2 separate regions of the Homo sapiens genome follow, and region 2 is linked to region 1. The links come from fine-mapping of genetic effects on gene expression. A gene starts in region 1. The other region holds a variant in brackets. All regions are shown on one strand. Distances are from middle to middle.

Region 1 (4,389 bases):
GCAGGTGCCAGAAGAAGGGCCAGGTGTCAAGGCTAATGTGCTGCTCTGCTCCTGCCCCGTCAGGGCTGGGGTGTCACGGGGAGCCCCCTTCCTGACTCTGCCATCCAGCACCACGGACAGGGCTTTGGTGGTTCTTTGGGAATAGGTATCAACCAGGGGTGGGCGGACGTTTTGTGTGAAGGGCCAGATGGTACAATTTTAGGTTCAGGGGCTGCAGGTCTCTGTCACAGCCATGTGAGCTTCTGTGCAAGCATGAAGACAGCCACAGGCCACATGCCAATGAGCGCACGGCGGCTGTGGGCCAGTGACGCTTGACTTAATGAACTGGAGCATGGGAATTTCAAAGAATTTTCATGGACCACAAGACATCGTTCTTTTGAATGTTTCCTAAGAATATTAACATGTAGGAAGCATTCTTTGCTCATGGGCGAGGCAGAAACAGGAGGTGGTTGGCTGGGCCATAGTTCGCCACCCCTGGCGCAGGCACCTGGTTCAAGTCGTGAAAGTCCTGCTCCTCCCGCAGCCCCTGCCCACCCTCATCCCGATGAGACCGGCGTCCCCGTTCCTGGTGAGCCAGCACTTCCAGAGCCAGTCTGTGCATGCACAAAGCCCTTCTTTGCACCCATCTTCCTGGGAAGCATGTGGGGTCCACACACACTGGTCTTCCAGCCTGTTTCCCTGGGGGATGGGTGTGCAGTGGGAGTGTCCCCCACCCTCTCCACCCAAGTTTTCCACAGCCAGGGATCCACCACCCGGGCTCTCGGCATCTCCAGGTGGATGCGCCCGTGATTTCTCAGCTTTTGCTCTTTCCAAAAATTAGCGTTGTACACTCTCCCCCAAGGCATAAAGTCTAAGGCTCAGGGCAACCAGCCCTGGGGGCCTCCCCTCCAGGGAGGCCCTCACAGCACCCTCAGGGGGAGGTTCTGTTGTTATCCGCAGAACAGAGGCCCAGAGAGGTGAAGCAAGAGCCCGCAGATCCCAGCCCCGCTACGTCAGGAAGCCCGGCTGGACCCACGTCTGGCTCCAGGGTCCTGTGTTGGTGATCACAGCCCTGTGGCTGTTCCCAGCGGTCACAGGCCCTGAGGAGCTTCAGTCCCTGGAACACACACAAGAGGTGTCCTGAGGACACGCATGGAACTGCGCTTGAGCTGCAATCTGTCCCCTAGTTCCCGCCTCGCTTGGGCATCTGACGGCCTTTATCTCTTCTCCCCTGATCCTTATCCGACACCCCAACTCTTCTGCAGACTCCAGTTCCTTCCCAGTGCCCTGGGTCCTTCAGGGTCCTTGGGATGAGACATCTCCGAACACGAGCTTTTCTCAGCTGGCGTCTGAGGGTGATGGCGTTCTGCCCACAGGCATCCGCCTGCACAGGCCTCCCTGACAAGAGGGGCTGAGGGGGAAAGGAGTGAGACAGAAAACCAGCAGGGCCCCGGGGACCGAGCCCTGGAGAAGCGCCAGTTCCCGCCCAGATGAGGGCCGACACCTCGGAAGGACCGGCCTGGGGGGTCGCCCTCCCCAGGCCCTCTGCCTCCCATCGTGGCATGGACTGCACCTTTGGTGTCCTTCCCTCCCATGGCCTCTGAGTCCCTGAACACTGGCTCATACCTGCTCCACCCAGATACAGCACAGAGGAGAGACCCGGGCAGCCTCTAAGGGCAGTGCCTTGAGGGCCAGTGCCTGGTGCACCTGCCGCACAGGGCACAGGACACAAAGGGCTGGGTGATCCATTCAGGCTCTCTCAGGGCCCGCGTCGAGCTCGGCCTGGGTCCCAGGAAGGCTGCCAGGCACCAGGTGCTGCCTGAGTCCGAAGGAGGCCCTGACTCCAGGTCGCCCACGGCAGGAGTGGGCCCCACGGAGCTTCTGTGGACCCTTGACCCGCCACCCTCAGGTGGAAGCCATCAGGCTGCGCTGGATAAGCCAGCCTCTCCCCACCTCTGCCATTCAAGTCGGTGCCAGTGCTGACTGGAGAGATCCCAGAGATAACTGTGAAATGCCTGTCACTGTTCTCAGCTTCGTTTATGTAGGCTGCAGAGCCAAGACAGCAAATACTGCACATCCGGGAGCCTCCCCAAGGCCGGCCCTGGGCCTTCCCCCAGGAAGAGCCCCACGGCCAGCTCCTTCCTGTTCCCCTGGCGGCCCCTCGCTTCTTCCTTCTGGATGGGGGCCCAGGGGGCCCAGGAGAGTATAAAGGCGATGTGGAGGGTGCCCGGCACAACCAGACGCCCAGTCACAGGCGAGGTAAGGTGCTTGGCTCCATGGGTGGGGCCCGGCAAGGTCACACTGGCCCTTGCTTTGGAGTCAGGAGGCCTCTCTTCTTCCCACAGAGCCCTGGGATGCACCGGCCAGAGGCCATGCTGCTGCTGCTCACGCTTGCCCTCCTGGGGGGCCCCACCTGGGCAGGGAGTAAGTCAGTGGGGTCTGCCCTCAATCTCCCCTGCCTCCCTCCAGGAGAGCCAGGGACTCACCCGGCCCTTGTCCCAGACTAACTCTGGTCACAGAACCATCCTGTCTGCCTGGAGGGGTGGGGTCCCCTGTTCTGGCAGAGGTCACCCCCATATCACCGCATGGGGATTTTCTTCCCTTTGGGTCTCTCTTTTCTTCAGAGATGTATGGCCCTGGAGGAGGCAAGTATTTCAGCACCACTGAAGACTACGACCATGAAATCACAGGGCTGCGGGTGTCTGTAGGTCTTCTCCTGGTGAAAAGGTGAGTAGGGCTATGGTCATGGGCCCAGCGCCATGTCCCCTCCCATCCCACAGTTTCAGGAACTCAGGGCAGGGGGTAAGCACCCGTGGCCACTTTTGCCACACATGCCTGGCTACTGTCGATGCTTCCTGGCTCCCGCTGATGCTTCCTGGCTGGAGCGGAGACGGTCAGACCGTCCTCCCTACCTTCTCCCTTCAACCCAAGCTCAACTCAACCAAAAATGGCCCCTCTGTCCCCATGCCTGATAGGAAAGTCAGGGGAAAGTCTGTCCGATTACTGTCAAAGAAGACAGGAGGTAAGGGTCAGAGTGGACCACTGACTGAATATGAGTCGCAGAAGTGTTAGAGGCAGAAGTCCAGGGCCATTTCCTTAATATCGAAGTGTCTCTGCTGGAGGTCTGGGATGGATTTTTGCCCTGCATTTAGAAGTTCTGGGGTCCTGGGAGAGGGGAGAGAAGCCCAATAGCAGAGGAGACAGAGTGTGGGCGGGGCGAGCCGGAGGGGTGCATCCTGGGAGAGCACCAGGGTGAGGGAGGGGTGAAGATGAGCCCCGTCAGGGAAGCGCTGGCGAGTGTGGGAAGTCACCTGCCCCTCGGCCTGTGAGCTGCTCTGCTTGGAGTGACTAAGGCTCGGGAGGTCCAGGCTCGGCCAGAGGCAGCTCATATGTGGGCCACAGTGACGGCAGCTGGTGCCTTCTGGGTCACGGAGACCTGGCGCTGCACGCAGCTCTCCTCACCAGGATCTCAGTGACTCCTCCCAAAAGTCACACCCACTTTGCAGACGGGGAAACTGAGTCCGGAGAGGCTGGGTAACGAGCTCAAGATCACAGGGCCCAAAAGTGGTAGAATCAGGGTTGGTGACCAGTGAGTCTGTGTCAGGGACCCAAAGTCTGATGGTGCTGGACTCTCTGCATCCCGGGAAGGAGGATGGGGGCGCTGAGGACCCGGGATGTGCTGGGCCATCCCAGATCTGGACGTCCAAAGCTTTGCCTCTCTCCCAGTGTCCAGGTGAAACTTGGAGACTCCTGGGACGTGAAACTGGGAGCCTTAGGTGGGAATACCCAGGAAGTCACCCTGCAGCCAGGCGAATACATCACAAAAGTCTTTGTCGCCTTCCAAGCTTTCCTCCGGGGTATGGTCATGTACACCAGCAAGGACCGCTATTTCTATTTTGGGAAGCTTGATGGCCAGATCTCCTCTGCCTACCCCAGCCAAGAGGGGCAGGTGCTGGTGGGCATCTATGGCCAGTATCAACTCCTTGGCATCAAGAGCATTGGCTTTGAATGGAATTATCCACTAGAGGAGCCGACCACTGAGCCACCAGTTAATCTCACATACTCAGCAAACTCACCCGTGGGTCGCTAGGGTGGGGTATGGGGCCATCCGAGCTGAGGCCATCTGGGTGGTGGTGGCTGATGGTACTGGAGTAACTGAGTCGGGACGCTGAATCTGAATCCACCAATAAATAAAGGTTCTGCAGAATCAGTGCATCCAGGATTGGTCCTTGGATCTGGGGTACAACCAAAGCCTTCCCTGCTCCTTGGAGACAAAGTCCCCAGTGCTGCAGCCCAGTGAACTGAGATGAGGGGTAGGGCAAAGGTGACTCTGCCGAGGACAGAAAGAGAGCAGCACCACCCCCTCAGAGGTGCTGTGGATCTCTGTGCCAGTCCCACAATCTTTGAAGA
Region 2 (4,389 bases), 42 kb after region 1:
TTAGAGTTTCTCACTGCAGACTGAGCATTTTTGAGACGGGGTCTCGCTCTGTCACCCAGGCTGGAGTGCAGTGGTGCGATCTCAGCCTCCTGGGTTCAAGCACTTCTCTTACCTCAGCCTCCTGAGTAGTTGGGACTACAGGCACATGCTACCACGCCCAGCTAATTTTTTGTATTTTTAGTAGAGACAGGGTTTCACTGTGTTAGCCAGGATGGTCTCGATCTCCTGACCTCGTGATCCGCCCTCCTCGGCCTCCCAAAGTGCTGGGATTACAGGTGTCAGCCACTGCGCCTGGCAGGGGAGGTTCTTTACTGTTCTCCAGGCTTGAGCTCTCTTGTCTCCAGCGAACCAGCTCTTCAGCTGTGTCTCCTGCCCTGTCTCTGCAATCTAGCCAAGAATGAATCCTGATTCCGCAGCGTGGCCGAAGGTTGGTGGCTGTATATCTGGCCCACAATGTCCTTTATCCCCAAAGCTCCATTCAAGCATGTCTGTCTGTCTATCCTTTTATCTCTTTTCTCTCTCAGCATTTTGTAAAATTTGCTCAACTTTAGCATATAGCTGGATGCCTTGACTCACAGTGAATCCCTCAGGTTTTTTTTGAGGCAGGGTATCATTATATTATCCATGCTGAAGTGCAGTGGTTATTCACAGACGTGACCATAGTGCACCACACCCTTGAACTCCAGGGATCAAGCCATCCTCTTGCCTCAGCCTCCCGAGTAGCTGGGAACACAGGCTCATACCACTGAGTCTGGCTACCAATAATTTTTATTTTAACAATCTGTAGGTCAAACCTGAAAAACCGCCTCTAAATAACTTATAATTTTGATATATTTACGTTTCGATCCTTATGATGTTTGCATTTTGTTTCTGTATTCCAGGGTTGCAAGCATATTCTACTTTTCCCAATATGTTTATAGTTTGAGGTTTTAAAAACATTTTTATGAACAATATAAAGATATACTATTTTCCAAATATGTTAAGTAATTTTTTCAGCAATGTTTATTGAATCAATCATCTTTTCATTCCCCAGTGATTTAAAATGACATCAACGTAAGATATATCTGTATATATCTGTTAGGGTAAAATTCATTTGTGTGATCGAGGAAGCAGAACCCTCAAGGAGCGATGTAACATAATTACAGCAGGGCACAGTGGCTCACGCCTGTAATCACAGCACTTTGGGAGGCTGAGGTGGGTGGATCCCTTGAGATCAGGAGTTCAAGATCAGCCTGGCCAACATAGTGAAACCCCGTCGCTACTAAAAATACAGAAATTAGCTGGCATGGTGGCACATGCCTGTAATCCCAGCTACTCGGGAGACAGAGGCAGGAGAATCGCTTGAACCCAGGAGGTAGAGGTTGCAGTGATTGTGCCACTGCACTCCAGCCTGGGTGACAGAGCAAGACACTGTTTCAAAAAAAAAAAAAAGAATTAGGCCAGGCTCAGTGGCTCACGCCTGTAATCCCAGCAATTTGGGAGGCGGAGGCAGGAGGATCAGTTGAGCCTCGGAGATAGAGGCTGCAGTGAGCCGTGATGGCAACACTGAAATCCAGCCTGGATAATGGAGTGAGGCCCTGTCTCCAAAATAAATAAAATTAAATTAATAAAGTAAGTATAGGGATTGGATTTTCCGTGACTATGGGAGCAAGCCCAGGGAGCTGCCTCCAGTTGACTTCTGCACCTACGTTGGCTGAAGCTGGTTGTAGCAAGGAGCGCTAATAGGAAAAAATTATGTGTGAAGCAGGGAGTGTGAGAAGATGGAGCCACATCTGTCTCTCACTGCCTACAGCCTCAATATCAAACAGAATAAGCTGCTGCCTGCTACCTCAACTCTGCACACGCCTGGCTCAGACTCTGAGCAGCCAATGGAGGAGACATGGTGGGAGCTGAGGGAGCCGAGGGCCTGGCTACTGCCCAAAGCGGGCAGCACAGTGAGCTACGATGGGGACTCATCCCCACTCCCCACGCTGACCCCAGAGCTGCATGGCTGATGCTTCACTTAAACCTTCTGATCTTGCACAAACTTCTCTTAAGGCCAGTCATCATAACATGGAAGGGAATTCTGAAAAGATATTCCAGGCCAATTCTCATCAAAACCAAGCTGGGGCCAGGTGCAGTGGCTCATATTATTTTATAAATAATAAAAAAGTATTAAAATTTGTTCGCTGGGCGCGGTGGCTCATGCCTGTAATCCCAGCACTTTGGG[A/T]GGCTGAGGTGGGCGGATCACAAGGTCAGGAGATGGAGACCATCCTGGCTAACATGGTGAAACCCCGTCTCTACTAAAAATACAAAAAATTAGCCGGGCGTGGTGGCGGGCGCCTGTAGTCCCAACTACTCAGGAGGCTGAGGCAGGAGAACGGGGTGAACCCAGGAGGTGGAGCTTGCAGTGAGCCGAGATCGCACCACTGCACTCCAGCCTGGGCAACAGGGCGAGAGTCTGTCTAAAAAACAAAACAAACAAACAAAAAAATTGTTATAGAGTTGTTACATCTCCCACTATGATTATAGGGGTTACTTTGTCAATTTTTATTTGTAATGTGCCCATTTTTTCTTTATATCTTTGAGGTTATGATGTTAGGTGCATACAAACTCATGATTCTTAGGTCTTCTTCTCAAAAAAAAAAAAAGAAGGAAGGAAAGAAGGGGAGGGAAGGGGAAGGGGAAGGAAGGTTAGGTTCAAGCTATATTTATCCCACGATTGAAACCAAATACTTTAGGAATGTGTGTGCCTAGGCTTTGCGCATTGGTAATTTGATTCTGAGCTGACATCTACTGAAATAAACATTCCTTCCTCACCCATAAAGGCCAGGATTTTTTTCAACACTTAAAACATCTGATTGAAAAAAGACAATGGAACCCCAGAATGAGGAAAGTATCAATATAAAATATATCAGTGAATGTTTTCAACAATGTAACAATTAGCTTAACAATTGACATGCAGTATAAACAAGTAGTAATTTTAGTGTAAAAAGGTTATGAAAATATGCAGAAAATACACGTCTAAAGTCAAGAAGCAAAAGATATTTTAAGGCCAGGCACTGTGGCTCATACTTGTAATCCCAGCACTTTGGGAGGCCAAGGCGGGTGGATCACCTGAGGTCATGGTGAAACCCTGTCTCTACTAAAAATACAAAAATTAGCCAGGCGTGGTGGCACATGACCGTAATCCCAGCTACTCCAGAGGCTGAGGCAGGAGAATCACTTGAACCCCAGGAGGTGGAGGTTACAGTGAGCTGAGGTCACACCACTGCACTCCAGTCTAGGCGACAGAGTGAGACTCCATCTAAAAAAAAAAAAAAAAAGACATTTTAGTTTTACTTTCTGGTATTTAAGATAAATTATGTGGAAAAAGTGAAATTACTGATGTTCAAACCATTTTTGAGGGGCAATTTTAATAGATCTGCCACTTTCTTGACCATTCCTTTCTTCTTTTTAAATTGAGATTTAATTCACATGCCATAAAATTGACCATTTTATTTTATTTTGAGATAGGGTCTCATTCTGTTACCCAGGCTGGAGTGCAATGGTGCGATCTCAGCTCACTGCAGCCTCGACCTCTCTGGCTCAAGCGATCCTCCTGCCTCAGTCTCCTGAGTAGCTGGGACCACAGGCGCACACCACCACACCCACTCTGTTTTTAGTAGAGATGAGGTCTCCCTATGTTGCCCAGGATAGTCTCAAACTCCTGATCTCAAGTGATCCTCCTACCTCAAGCCTTTCAAAGTGCTGGGATTACAGGCATGGGCCACTGAGCCCGGCCAGAAAATTGACCATTTTAAAGTGTACAATTCCGTGGCTTTTGGTCTGTTCACAAAGTTGTGCATTGATAATCATTAATTCCAAAAATGTTTCATCACCCCCAAAAAGAAAACTAGTGCCCTAGTAGCAGTCACTCCCCCAAGCCCCTGGCAACCAACCAGTAGTCCACCTTCTGTCTCTGAATTTGCCCGTTCCAGACATTTCACATAAATGAACTCATGTAGCCTCTCGTGTGTGGCTTCTCTCACTTGGCATCATGTTTCAAGGTTCATGCCCGTCGTAGCATGTATTGTATTTCCATTGCAGGGATAGACCACGTTTCATTTAATTGTTAATCATTTAAATGATTAAATGGACATCTGTATCACTTCATATTTGTTTCACTATCATAAATAATTCAAAAATCCGTGTGGCTAAATCCCTGTCACTTGTGGACAGTCCAAAGCAGTCAAATTGCCATGAAACCACCAAGTTGAAGGGATCAACAGGACCCCTGCCCACCGCGTGGGTGCCTTCAGCAGCCTGCACCCCGGCAAAGCTGAGGTGTTTGGATTAAGAAATGGGGGAGGGGCAGGGCGTGGTGTCTCACGCCTCTAATCCCAGCACTTTGGGAGGCCGAAGAGGGCG

The links. PIP is the estimated chance that this variant, and not a neighbour inherited with it, causes the effect.
Region 2: its variant is the best candidate, but not a certain one, in a credible set for the expression of ZG16B in monocytes after LPS (Fairfax 2014, PIP 0.53).

What each region holds. Positions count from the first base shown.
Region 1 is chr16:2,828,091-2,832,479 of GRCh38, forward strand. ZG16B (zymogen granule protein 16B) reads left to right here and starts at 2,213. Exons shown (of 4, transcript NM_145252.3): 1 at 2,213-2,238; 2 at 2,325-2,403; 3 at 2,604-2,706; 4 at 3,706-4,186. The coding sequence starts at 2,352. The coding sequence ends at 4,069.
Region 2 is chr16:2,870,222-2,874,610 of GRCh38, forward strand. No RefSeq gene overlaps it. Among named protein-coding and RNA genes, the nearest start is that of FLYWCH2, 11 kb to the right of the region's middle. The variant A/T (reference allele first, on the strand shown) is at 2,210.